Linked DNA regions of Homo sapiens. The protein of the gene in region 1 interacts with the protein of each later gene in a pairwise test. Each region holds a gene or a part of one and is shown in the gene's direction. Other genes may lie near its edges.

The links. Proteins that work in one complex are often made in the same cells at the same time.
Region 2: the proteins of OIP5 (region 1) and KRT83 interact in binary tests that used the Homo sapiens proteins (3 or more experiments, as listed by UniProt).
Region 3: the proteins of OIP5 (region 1) and SPATA24 interact in binary tests that used the Homo sapiens proteins (3 or more experiments, as listed by UniProt).
Region 4: the proteins of OIP5 (region 1) and KRT86 interact in binary tests that used the Homo sapiens proteins (3 or more experiments, as listed by UniProt).

Annotation. Positions count from the first base shown.
Region 1 is NC_000015.10:41,312,183-41,315,591, reverse strand, and holds part of OIP5 (protein Mis18-beta), read left to right. Parts: intron 1-2,237; coding exon 2,238-2,319; exon of another isoform or gene 2,320-3,409. UniProt on the Homo sapiens protein: Required for recruitment of CENPA to centromeres and normal chromosome segregation during mitosis.
Region 2 is NC_000012.12:52,318,599-52,322,809, reverse strand, and holds the start of KRT83 (keratin, type II cuticular Hb3), read left to right. Parts: upstream 1-1,411; 5' UTR 1,412-1,474; coding exon 1,475-1,858; intron 1,859-3,445; coding exon 3,446-3,654; intron 3,655-4,211.
Region 3 is NC_000005.10:139,398,679-139,401,089, reverse strand, and holds part of SPATA24 (spermatogenesis-associated protein 24), read left to right. Parts: intron 1-2,411. UniProt on the Homo sapiens protein: Binds DNA with high affinity but does not bind to TATA boxes. Synergises with GMNN and TBP in activation of TATA box-containing promoters and with GMNN and TBPL1 in activation of the NF1 TATA-less promoter.
Region 4 is NC_000012.12:52,302,145-52,305,644, forward strand, and holds part of KRT86 (keratin, type II cuticular Hb6), read left to right. Parts: coding exon 1-141; intron 142-955; coding exon 956-1,164; intron 1,165-1,966; coding exon 1,967-2,027; intron 2,028-2,787; coding exon 2,788-2,883; intron 2,884-3,095; coding exon 3,096-3,260; intron 3,261-3,500.

The DNA of each region.
Region 1 (3,409 bases):
AGAAACTTTGGCCTTTTCCTCTTGGATTCGGGATGGCTGCTGCAATTACAGTCATTACATCTATTGATGATAGCATCCTAAACATGAAGGAAAAGGATATGGAGAGTATGGGAACACAAGAAAATTCCCCCTTTTCATCAGCATAAATTTTTTTTTTTTTTTTGAGACAGAGTCTTGCTCTGTCACCCAAGTTGGAACACAGTGGTGTGATCTCAGCTCATTGCAACCTCCGCCTCCCAGGTTCAAGTGATTCTCCTGCCTTGCCTCCCAAGCAGATGGGACCACAGGTGCGCTCCACCACAGCCTGCTAATTTTTGTATTTTTATTAGAAATGGGGTTTTACCATGTTTGCCAGGCTGGTCTCAAACTCCTGACCTCAGGTGATCCCCCCGCCTCGGCCTCCCAAAGTGCTGGGATTACACGCATAAGCCACTGCGCCCCGCCAGCATAAATTTTCTTAATCTTTTTTTTATTCTTTTTTTTTTTTTTTTTGAGACAGGGTCTCACTGTCACACAGGCTGGAGCGATCATGGTTCACTGCAGCCTCAACCTTTTGGGTTCAGGTGATCCTCCCAACTCAGCCTCCCAAGTAGCTGGGACTACAGGCATGCCACCACATCTGGCTAATTTTTGTATTTTTTGTAGAGATGGGGTTTCGCTGGCCAGGCATGTTGGCTCACAGCTGTAATCCCAGCACTTTGGGAGGCTGAGGCAGGCGGATCACTTGAGGTCAGGAATTCAAGACCAGCCTGTCCAATATGGTGAAACCCTGTCTCTGCTAAAAATACAAAAATTAGCTGGGCATGATGGTGGGCACCTGTAATCCCAACTGCTTGGGAGGCTGAGGCAGAAGAATTGCTTGAACCTGGAAGGCGGAGGTTGCAGTGAGCCGAGATCTCGCCATTGCACTTCAGCCTGGGTGACAGAGTAAGACTCTGTCTCAAAAAAAAAAAAAAGAGATGGAGTTTCGCTATGTTGCCCAGGCTGGTCTCAAATTTCTGATGTCAAGCCATCTGCCTGCCTCAGCCTCCCAAAGTGCTGGGATTATAGGTGTGAGCCAGCACACCCATCCCATTTTCTTACCCTTGTTGGCCAGAACTATGTCACATGATCACCTCATCTGAGAAAGCAAATATGTAACAGTAGGCTCATGGCAAAAATCTGGATTCTGTTGGCAATAAAGAAGTGAGGAAGGCTGGGCTCGGCTCACGCCTATAATCCCAGCACTTTGGGAGGCCCAGGCAGGGGGATCACCTGAGGTCAGGAGTTCGAGACCAGCCTCGCCAACATGGTGAAACCCCATCTCTACTAAAAATACAAAAATTAGCTGGGCGTGGTGGCGCAAGCCTGTAATCCCAGCTACTCGGGAGGCTGCGGCAGGAGAATCGCTTGAACCCAGGAGGCAGAGGTTGCAGTGAGCTGAGATTGTACCACTGCACTCTAGTCTGGGCAACAGAGCGAGACTCCATCTCAAAAAAAAAAAGTGAGGAACAGCTACTGGGAATAGGTGACCAACACTATGTCTCATACTGGGATTACTTTCTTTCAAACTGTGCTACAGGATCCTACTGATGAAGTGTAAAGCTTATAATCATCGTAATTATTCATATGAGCCTGGTTTTTGTCTTTAATTTACCCTGAGATAATTTTGTCTCTGGTGGGATGCGGCAGAGATCCTCTCCAATTTGTTTATTTTTGAATTTGTTTTTCCAAGAAAATGCAGTCATCCTTCAGTATCTGTGGTTCCAGGACCTCACCAGATACCAAAATCCATGGACACTCAAGTTTCTGATATTAAGTGGTGTAATATTTGCATATTACTTTTGGATATCCTCCTTTTTAAAGTATAAAAGTATATATTTTATACTTTAAAATAATCTCCAGATTACTTATGACAGCTAACGTAATGTAAATGCTATGTACATTACAAATTTACATAGGAAATTTACAAAGTTGTTGTAATGTTAAGGGAATGATGACAAGAAAAAGAGTGTACCTGTTCAGTACAGACACAATCCAGTTTTTTTTTCCTGAATATTTTTAGTCTGTGGTTGTTTGAATCCATGGATGCTATACCCATGGATATGGTGGGCCAACTGTAACATCATGAGTCTTGAAATGAAAATCATTAAGAAGCCAGGCTTTTTTTGACACATACTTTCTTTAGAAGGTAAGTTTGGTTCTTTTATAATCTTAACCATGGTATGACACTAATATTTTTCTTTTTTCCTATCTAGCTATCTCTTAAAAACAAAAGCCATAGTAAATGCATCAGAGATGGATATTCAAAATGTTCCTCTATCAGAAAAGATTGCAGAGGTAAAATTTCATGATGGTTGTATGCTTTTTTAAAATACAGACAACTCTTGATAACTTCTACCAATGAACTTGGGGATGATGAAATGGCATGATGCTCAATAATCCTTTTTACTTGATTTGACCTTCCCTATTGAATTTGTAATGAAAAACAAAATACTAAAACCACACTGTAAGGTATAGTTCAGGAAGAAAGGAAAAGCTGCTCAACTGCTGCACTCCTGCATTCTCCTTTGTGCTGGGAATGGATATCATCATCTTGCCATAGAGGTGTCTTCTTTGCAAATACCTTGTAATTGCTCAACTGTCTCAGACATAAGAGTGATGAAACAGTTATTAAGAATTCCTGGCCGGGCGTGGTGGCTCACGCCTGTAATCCCAGCACTTTGGTAGGCCAAGGCGAGCAGAACATGAGGTCAGGAGATGGAGACCATCCTGGCTAACACAGTGAAACCCCATCTCTATTACAAATACAAAAAATTAGCCGGGCGTGGTGGCACGTGCCTGTAGTCCCAGCTACTCGGGAGGCAGAGGCAGGAGAATTGCTTGAACTGGGAGGTGGAGGTTGCAGTGAGCTGAGATTGCGCCACTGCATTCCAGCCTGGGCAACAGAGCAAGACTCTGTCTCAAAAAAAAAAAAAAAAAAAATTTAGCCGGTCATGGTGGTGGGCGCCTGTAATCCCAGCTACTTAGGAGACTGAGGCAGGAGAATCGCTTGAACCCAGGTGGTGGAGGTTGCAGTGAGCCGAGACTGCGCCACTGCACTCCAGCCTGGGCAACAGAGCGAGACTGCGTCTCAAAAAAAAATAATTCTTGCCTGGGCGTGGTGGCTCACGCCTGTAATCCCAGCACTTTGGGAGGCTGAGGCGGATGGATAACCCGAGATCAGTAGTTCGAGACCAGCCTGACCAACATGGAGAAACCCTGTCTCTACTAAAAATACAAAATTAGCCGGGCGTGGTGGCACATGCCTGTAATCCCAGCTACTTGGGAGGTTGAGACAGGAGAAGCACTTGAACCTGCGAGATAGAGGTTGTTGTGAGGCAAGATCATGCCATTGCACTCTAGCCTGAGCAACAAGAGTGAAAATCTG
Region 2 (4,211 bases), on another chromosome or scaffold:
AGCAGTCCAGAGATGTGTGTTTGGAAGGGTTGATGGGCTCAGGTCCTCGGGTTAAGGCAAACCTCCTGGCTCGGTCCGACTGTCCATCCATCAAAGCCATTGCCTGTCCTAACCCAAAGGAACAAGGGCCCAAAGTAAGAGAGCTTGGCTTTAGGAACAGCCACATGAGCTAGCACCCTTCTCTCACCCAGTGTGTTCTCTGAGGTGAGAGAGTGATCTCATTTAAGGACCCTGCTGATGTCCCTCACCTCCCGCACCTTCCCTCCTTCCTGGTGAGTACATACACCCCAAGACCCCATCACTGAGCTTCCCTGCTGGGAACCTAAAGAACACCAATCAGCCTGGACATTGTGAGGGCCTTCCCCCCATCTGTGGCTTCTCATCTTTCCCCCTAGCCAAATGTTGGCTCCCCCACATGCATGCTACCTCCAAACACCCCAGGTCTCTGTAGGATTTCCAGAACCTAGCACAGTGGCTAGTGCATAGTTGGTGGGCACCAAATAAGTATTTCCTGAATAAATGAATAAATGAATAAATGAATAAATGAATACACATAGTCTAGTCTGCAAATCAGAGCCAGACTCTTTTCTGGTCATCTCTCAATCCTGTACTACCCCACCCCAATCCTCCTCAAGCCCAGGTCCCCACTCTCCTCCATGAGTCCCTGGAGCTCTGAGGTATTCCACACTCCCCGCTCCTGATCCCATCAGCAATGACACCTGGAACTCTGAAGCATAGCCCTGGCACTGTCCTGAACTCTCTGAATCAGTTTCTTCCATGTCCCAGATGGTGTCCCTGCACTAGGAATACCCAAAGTGCAAAGAACATGCCCTCCTCCCACCCCAAATCTCTACCCCCACTCCCATCCTTGACCAGGCTCTGAGCAGGAATAGGATAGGAGCGGCCAATCTTGACAATGAGGAAAGGAACCCGCCTTTGAGAAAAAGACAGGAAAGCCTACAGCAAGAGGTTGTCTCAGAGGCAGCCCCCTCCTTGGGACAGGCCAGCCACTCCACCCCAGGGCTTGGCCATGGGTCCAGGGCCCATAGCCTAGCTCTGCCCCTTTCAGAACAGGGTTCAGAGAGCAGGCTTTACCCCAGGTCACTGCACCCATTCCCCTCGCTTGGACCGCAGAATGCAACTAATGCTTTCAGGAACCCCTCTCCCCGCTCCACAGCAGTGCCAGTGGGAGGGGCAGGAGCAAGGAGGAAGCTTATAAAGGGCTTTGAAGATGAAACAGGGCCCGTGGCCAGGGATTGTTGATGCAGCCACACTGAAGAGGCAAGCAGGGTTCTAGCTTAAGAGGCCAGGGTGATGCCAAGCCAATAAAATTCAGCTATTGTCTCTTTGCTCCCTCTTTTAACACCAGCTGCCCCTGGCACATAAAAGGGCCTGCCATCAGCCAGGGAGCACAGGCCCTTGGTTCCATCCTCTGCCATCTACTCCACTGTTCAGACACCTCCTAACCTCCGTCATGACCTGTGGCTTCAACTCCATAGGCTGTGGGTTCCGCCCTGGAAACTTCAGCTGTGTCTCTGCCTGCGGGCCCCGGCCAAGCCGCTGCTGCATCACCGCCGCCCCCTACCGCGGCATCTCCTGCTACCGCGGCCTCACCGGGGGCTTTGGCAGCCACAGCGTGTGCGGGGGCTTCCGCGCCGGCTCCTGCGGACGCAGCTTCGGCTACCGCTCCGGGGGCGTGTGCGGACCCAGCCCCCCATGCATCACCACCGTGTCGGTCAACGAGAGCCTCCTCACGCCCCTCAACCTGGAGATAGACCCCAACGCGCAGTGCGTGAAGCAGGAGGAGAAGGAGCAGATCAAGTCCCTCAACAGCAGATTCGCGGCCTTCATCGACAAGGTGGGTGTCGTCCTGGATCACACCCTTCCTGAACCCCTACTCATGTTCAGAACTCAGGCTGGGCACTGACAGGGAAGTCAAAGGCAAGAACTTGCCCACAGAAGTTCCCAGGCCAAAGGGAAAGGTAGTCATACTTCTAGGACACAGACAGAAAGACAAAAATGGGACCGGGAGCTACCAGACTGATGGGGGAGATTAACTGAAAACACAAAAGCAGAACGAGGGGCAGAGCCTTCCACACTGAGTGATAATATCACCTAGTGAGCAAAGGACCACTGTGTGGGCGCTCAGGGCATTTGAAGCCAAATAACTGCTTAAATGCCAAGGAGATGCTGTCTCCATCAAGGCAGGGCTAATAAGTGTGGTGCTGGAAAACTGTCTGGAAGTGGGTCTCGTGGATGGCACAGAACTCTTTCTATACCACACAGTGATTTGGCCACTGAGCAGGGTCTAGAGTATTTTGTCCAAGCCACTGTTCCTGGGGCTCAGGATCCAGGGGTGAGCAAGAGTCATGGTCCCCATCCTCACAGGCTTTATGGGGAGGCAGGCAGTGCACAGTCTGGGTTTGGTTGAAACCATCTGTGTAGTCAGTGTCCAACTAGAGTTTGCAGCCACCTTCTCCACTGAATCCAGGCAACCACCATGTGGCAGTGATGTGAGAGACTGGGAGAAAAGGCTCTGACTAGGAACATGTTCTGGGGTTGGAAAGAGCCCTCCAGAGCCAAAACCTCAAGAGAGGAGTCACACTAGAGAGATGCCCACCAGAAAGGATCGGGAAAAAAAAATGTGGAATTTCTAATAGCATGAGAGACCAAGGATAGCATAAGATAGGACCTACCAAGGGTGTGGCCAAGTTATTAGACAAAAGAAGCTGAGTGGAGTAGTGGGCCAACCTCATCGCTGGGAGAGGGATGTTCCTATAATTGTCAAAGGGAGAGAAGACACCCCCTGCAGCGCAGAAGATCGGAGTTTGAGCTCTTCTCTGCCACTGTGAGCTCTCAGGCAGTCAGGGAACCTCCTTGGCCTCATCAGTAAAATAAGGGGGTTGGAGCACAGGACATTCCTACTCTCATATTGCAGGTGACTATTATTCTAATTGCATTGTTGTTGTAGGGTTTGAATAATTGGCACATGCTTTATTTTTCAACTTTTACAGTTTGCCTTTCTAAAAAGGTCCACCTGGCTTGGTGTGATTGAACAGCAGTAGCTGTTCAGTGTGGGGTGCCTTTCTGTTAAAGGGTTCTTTTAATCCTCATAGTAAGGTGAGCTTTAACCTCGCCACTCTACAGAGGAGGTGAGTGCTTTATCCAAGGGCACAATGTTAACAAGTGGCAGCAGAATCTGGACTCTTCAAGCATTTTCCATGACACCAGGTAAACTGACTTAGAAGAGATTAACTCCCAGGAAGAACTTCCAGGTGGTGAACTGGTTAAGCCCTGGTGGCATTTTTGAGAGAGATGACATAACGCCTTCCAGGGAAGACTCTGGGTCAGAGAGTTGGGGGCTTTCAGGCCCTCGTGCTGGGAACCCCTCTTTGTCCTCTGATGCTGCAAGAAGAGGTTCTTAGGCTCTGCCTCTGGGTGGCAGGTGCGCTTCCTGGAGCAGCAGAACAAGCTGCTGGAGACAAAGCTGCAGTTCTACCAAAACCGCGAGTGCTGCCAGAGTAACCTGGAGCCCCTGTTTGCTGGCTACATCGAGACTCTGCGGCGGGAGGCCGAGTGCGTGGAGGCTGACAGTGGGAGGCTGGCCTCAGAGCTCAACCACGTGCAGGAGGTGCTGGAGGGCTACAAGAAGAAGTGAGTGTGGGCAGGAGGGGTTCTGGGCACAGGAAATAGCATGGTGGCAGCTCCCTGAGCCCGGAGGAGTATCCAGTCTGCAGCTGGCATCTCTGCCTGAGAGTGGAGAAGAACCTGTACCCCCTGTTTGAGACACAGGGGTCCCTTGGGTGTGGGGGATGGAGGCTCAGCTTGTCTTTCCACCAGCAGATCAGGGAAACAATGCTCTCTCCCTTTCTCCATCCATTTTTCACAAAAACTTGTATTCCTGGGTCCCTTTGAGACCAGATCTCAAAGTCCTGGACATGTGTCTTCCTAAGTTTGCTCTCTCACTCAGCTAACACTATCTGATCACCTACCACATGCAGCACGCTGTGCTGGTGATAGTGACACAGGGCCACGCAAGCCACACAGTGCGGGTTCTTGTGGAGCCTGCAGTCTGCTGGAAGGCAGTCATGACAGAGCCACAGATCTAGCCCTTCAGCTACAAAGTGTGATATATGGTATGAAGAATACGCACTGGATCCTCAGAAGGAATCTGCTTTTGAGGGGTGGCCAGCTTCCTTCAGTAACATTCT
Region 3 (2,411 bases), on another chromosome or scaffold:
CATCTCCTGGGTTCAAGTGATTCTTCTGCCGCAGCCTCCCGAGTAGCTAGGATTACAGGTGTGCACCACCATGCCCGGCTAATTTTTGTATTTTTAGTAGAGATGAGGTTTCACCATGTTGGTCAGGCTGGTCTCGAACTCCTGACCTCAGGTGATCCCCCACCTCAGCCTCCCAAAGTGCTGGGATTATAGGCGTGAGCCACCGCACCCAGCCAAAACCAAGTTTTAATGGAAGCTTTTCTGACTTTTTAGTGTTGGCAGTTGATTTTGAAATTTTAAAACTATCGTGTAGGCCAAGTAAAATATCTGTGGGCTGCCAGTTTTCAACTCTGCTCTGTGCAGATGCCTGGGGGCCACTTTTTTGGCTCAGTTGGTGCCATAAGTTGTGGGGCACCTTCTGAGTCAGCTACACATGCCCGTACACCTCAGGAGCCCCTTTCATTTCCCGGAATGCTAAACTCCCCTTACCCAGTTTAAGTATGGGCTGGGCGCGGTGGCTCATGCCTGTAATCCCAACACTTTGGGAGGCCAAGGCAAGCGGATCACATGAGGTCAGGAGTTCGAGACCAGCCTGGCCAACATGGTGAAACCCCATCTCTACTAAAAATACCAAAAATTACCCGGGCATAGTGGCGGGCACCTGTAATACCAGCTACTCAGGAGGCTGAGACAGGAGAACTGCTTGAACCCAGGAGGCAGAGGTTGCAGTGAGCCAGGATCATGCCATTGCGCTCCAGCCTGGGCAACAAAAGTGAAACTCTGTCTCAAAAAAAAAAAAAAAAAAAAAGTAGGTATGAATTCCAGGCACAACATCTGCTTTGTTCACTGCAGCAGATCTCCAGTAGGCCAGAGCCCAAGCGCAAGAGGTTCAAGGTCCTTACTGATGGGGCTCCCATGTGGAGCCTTGAGTACCCTGCCTTTCACCTGTTCAGCCTTCTCTCTCCCCTAGTGAGTGCTCTCACTGGGAAGATGGCAGCAGGCTGACATCTTGATCTGGCCAGGCAGGCTGACAGGTCTCATAGTAGTTTGGTCACTGGCTCCTGCCATGGCAGGGCGCAACAGGCAGTCACTGCCCCCATGCTCGAGACCATTGGTCCCCTCAGTCTTGCCCTCTCCCTGGGCATCCCCTTACTTCCCAAAAAAGAACCTGGGGTTCTTTCCTGGTAGGGCCAGAGACCTCCTTCCCCTAGGTCATTTCCTTCCAACAGAGATCAGTCAAGCTCACGGGGCTTTGGATCTGCTTGTTGGAAGGTGTGTGTGTCATGGGGACAGGTCCTGGCTGCCTCCCCCAGAATATTCTAAACCCCTCCTGTGGGACACAAGCCCTCCTGAGCCAGTCTGGTGATGTGAACCTCACCCTGGCCAGTGCCTCCCACCCCTACAAACTCCCCTTGTGTGGTTTCAGTTTGGTTTTTACACTTACATAGTTCTTTACTCTCAAAGGGATTTTCTAACCATTCTCTCACCATCGGGTGCCACAGGCTTTTATTTTCAAAGAGTCACACAAATTTCTAATTCTTTTTCCCAAACGAACTTCACAAGTAATTAATTCCACTTAGCTGGACGCCTGGGAAGGAGGTTCAACAGTCCTCGTCCCATGACCCGGTGAACTCATGTCTTCATTCTCTCCCTTCACCTGTCTCCTCTTTTCCATGCTGTGCCTTCACTTTTTACCAGGTCTTCTCTTTTGAAATCTTAAATGCTTAGACATTTCTGTATTTTCAGAGTTTGTGTTCTAGTTAATTCTTGTCCAACCTTTTTTTTTTTTTTTTTGAGATGGAGTCTTGCTCTGCCGCCCAGGCTGGAGTGCGGTGTCGAGATCTCGGCTCACTGCAAGCTCCGCCTCTCAGGTTCACGTCATCTTCCTGCCTCAGCCTCCCAGGTAGCTGGGACTATAGGTGCCCGCCACCACACCTGGCTAATTTTTTGTATTTTTAGTAGAGACAAGGTTTCACCGTGTTAGCCAGGATGGTCTCCATCTCCTGACTTTGTGATCCACCCACCTTGGCCTCCCAAAGTGCTGGGATTACAGGCGTGAGCCACCACGCCTGGCCTTTTTTTTTTTTGAAGCGGAATCTCGCTCTGTCACCCAGGCTGAAGTGCAATGGCACGATCTCGGCTCACTGCAACCTCCGTCTCCTGGGTTCAAGCAATTCTTCTGCCACAGCCTCCAAAGTAGCTGGGATTACAGGCATGTGCCACCACACCCAGCTAATTTTTGTATTTTTAGTAGAGACGGGGTTTTACCATGTTGGCCAGGCTGGTCTCAAACTCCTGACCTCAGGTGATCCACCCGCCTTGGCCTCCCAAAGTGCTGGGATTACAGGCATGAGCCACTGTGCCTGGCCCCTTGTCCAACCTTTGAAGACAGTAGGATTTTCTTTCTGTAGGAATCAGAATTTTCCAAGGTG
Region 4 (3,500 bases), on another chromosome or scaffold:
TGCATCACCACCGTGTCGGTCAACGAGAGCCTCCTCACGCCCCTCAACCTGGAGATCGACCCCAACGCGCAGTGCGTGAAGCAGGAGGAGAAGGAGCAGATCAAGTCCCTCAACAGCAGGTTCGCGGCCTTCATCGACAAGGTGGGTGTCCTGGATCACACCCTTCCTGAACCCCCACCACCTACACAGCCAGGGCCGGGCACTAAGGATGGAGTCAGAGGCACAAAGACCTCTGCCTGCCTGAGATCCCAGTCTGATGGGCGAGGCACACAGACACACAGACAGACAGACACATGCACAGACACACACACACAGGCACTCAAGATGCAGACTCAGCTGACAGTTCAGATAGAGGGAGCTTGTGAAGGAAAAGTGTGGCCAGGCTGCTCTGGGGCACAAGCTAGACATCAGGGAGTTGGGGGAGGGGGGCATGTGACCACTGCTGCTGAACTCAGAGGGGTTTGGGCAGCCCCAGGGTGAGAGAGTAGGGTGCACTGACTTCCAGATGACACAGGGGAAGGGCTGGGACAGCTGAGCTCCCTTCCAGATGGCCTGTGACACCCTCTTCCTGGCACCATCCCCAGAAACCTCATCTGTGATCTGAACCTGAGTACTCTGCCTGTGTGGGTTGCTGATCACCTAGTTTCATAGTGAGGGACTGAGCCTCTACTTCTGTTCATCTGCTTGGGTGGGGGGTGGGGGGGGGGTCACTCAACTCCCCAGGGAGCAGGCACTGACACCACCCAGCCCTTGCTCCACTCCTGAGTGGGAAATCTAGACACAGATCATGACCAGGAAATCCAGAAATTGTCTGTCTCCCACTGCCCACCTCTACTCAATCTCAGATAAGCTCCAGATTTGGGGGTTCCCATTAAAGCACCTCCCCTGCGAGCCCCCAGAGCTGGCTTTGGGGCACCAGACACCATCTGCCCCACCTTCCCACACCGAATGGCAGGTGCGCTTCCTGGAGCAGCAGAACAAACTGCTGGAGACAAAGCTGCAGTTCTACCAGAACCGCGAGTGTTGCCAGAGCAACCTGGAGCCCCTGTTTGAGGGCTACATCGAGACTCTGCGGCGGGAGGCCGAGTGCGTGGAGGCCGACAGCGGGAGGCTGGCCTCAGAGCTTAACCACGTGCAGGAGGTGCTGGAGGGCTACAAGAAGAAGTGAGTGCGGGCAAGAGGGATGCTGGGCACAGGAATGGGGTTTAGGTTAAATACACTGGATTAGACAATAAGAACTCCCAGGTAGGGTGAGTGGCCATGACCACTAGATTGACCGAGGGTGGCGGGGTCTTTTCCTTTGTGGAATCTTTGCCCAGACACCTGTGTAAGAGGAGGGCTGTGACTCCCATGACCTGTCTCTGTCCCACTTCAGCCTTCTCTCCCTGAACCACATCACCCAGCAGCTCTCCCCTGCGCTGGGTGGGGAGGAAGCCTCTGCAGGGTCCAGGCCTTCTCTCCTGACCCTCAGCCCCTATACTTGTAGCACCTGTCAGATGTGAGCCCAGGGTCTCTCATGAGTGACAGGTCTTGGGCTCTGGGTGTCGCACTGCCTTAGGTTCTAAGTCCTGAGGGTCTGCGGGTCCAGGAGGCCCCATACCTGAGCTGGGATTGATACCAGTGAGGGGAGGCTAGGGCTACAGGCCCTGAGAGTCCACGCTGTCCACTCCCAGGATGGGGCTGGGGGCTGAGTCCTATTTGCCTCCTGGGGGACCTCAGAGCCCCTTTGGGAACAGGACTGGGAGGTCCCAGATGAGCACTCTCCATCCCCAGTTCAAAGTGGATAGAGAATCCCAGACACATCCCACATCCAACTAGAAAGCACTAAGCTAGGCTGCCAGGCCGGGGCTGTGTGGAGGTGTTTCTAGTACTGTCCCCATGGCTGTGATGAAGTGTGATGTGATGGTGGCTCTGCAGAGACCTGCCCTGCCCTGACCTCCCCTCTCTTCCCTCTGCTCTGTCTCAGGTATGAGGAGGAGGTTTCTCTGAGAGCAACAGCTGAGAACGAGTTTGTGGCTCTGAAGAAGGCAAGTGACACAGGATTGAGAAGCACAGATCTGTGGGATCTCAGAATGACAGATTCTTCCTGGGGACACACAGGGGGTCTCAACCTCAGCGTGGGGCACAATGACCTTTCCACAGCAGGCTAGGACTGCCCAGATGCAGGCCTTTGTATTGAGCATCCAGGGCCTTGACAAAGGGCAATGACTTGGGAATATCTACCAGCACCTACCTTGGGCAAGGGGATGGCTGCACTGTCCTCTGTGTGTCCTGCTCTGTTCCAGAGGTTGTGGTCTATTGCTGAGGCCCCTGGAGCCATAGCAGATACAATGTCTCTGCTGAGAGACAGTGCAGTCTGTCTAGCATTTTGGGGAGTCTGACCTTGAGGCAGAGACACAATCCCAGGTTCTAAGGGGGGATGGAGAAGAACCAGGAGTAGCCCTTGGGCTTTTGGAGCACTGCTGGGGGACAGGAAAGGGTCAGGGTGTGAGAGCTGGGGGGTCAGTCTGGGCAGGCTTCCTGGAGCAGGAGAGGGGAGAAAGGAGAGATAAGAGGGTAAGGAGCAGTGAAAGGCTGGTGAGCCGTGCCCAAGACAAACAGGGTTTGTCCTCAGAATGGCAGAGGATGCCAGGTCACCCCGGGAAGGGCCAGAAGGGAAGGAGAGGGCATGGGAATGAGACACTGGGGACTCCTTTCCCCAGGCTTCATGGAATGGGTGGGAAGAGAGAGGAATCTAGAGGCTGGATCACCAGGGTCCTTGAGCTCCAACACTCCCCACCTTTCCAGGATGTGGACTGCGCCTACCTCCGCAAATCAGACCTGGAGGCCAATGTGGAGGCCCTGATCCAGGAGATCGACTTCCTGAGGCGGCTGTATGAGGAGGTGCGGGCTCAGGGGCCAGGCAGAGACCTGGCAGCCAGCAGAGAGGAGAGATGGGGGTGGGAGTGTTGGACAGGATGTGGGTAGAGGTTGCAGTCCCTGAGGCTGTGTGAGGGGGCAGGGTTGGGGACCAGAGAAAGCCTGAGGAGGTGGAGTCAGGACATGGTGGGTGGGGCTGTGTTCTCAACTAAAGTCACTGCCCTCACCTCCTGCAGGAGATCCGCGTTCTCCAGTCCCACATCTCAGACACCTCCGTGGTTGTCAAGCTGGACAACAGCCGGGACCTGAACATGGACTGCATCATTGCCGAGATCAAGGCACAGTACGATGACATTGTCACCCGTAGCCGGGCTGAGGCCGAGTCCTGGTACCGCAGCAAGGTGAGTGGCACAGGACACCTGCCTGCTAGACATGGCAGTGGGAGGGATTTGAGATTATCTATTAAATAGGCTTCCTTTTCTGGGGATGCACTAGGGATGAGAAGAGATGGCTGCCACTCTGATGTTGGGGTGGTAGGGCAGGACTGCCATGTGTGGTTGCACAGGCTGAGCACTGCACAACCTGCAAAATCATCTGTCATGCCCTGAATGGGTGGGAGGTCCCACCCTGAACCTCATGAG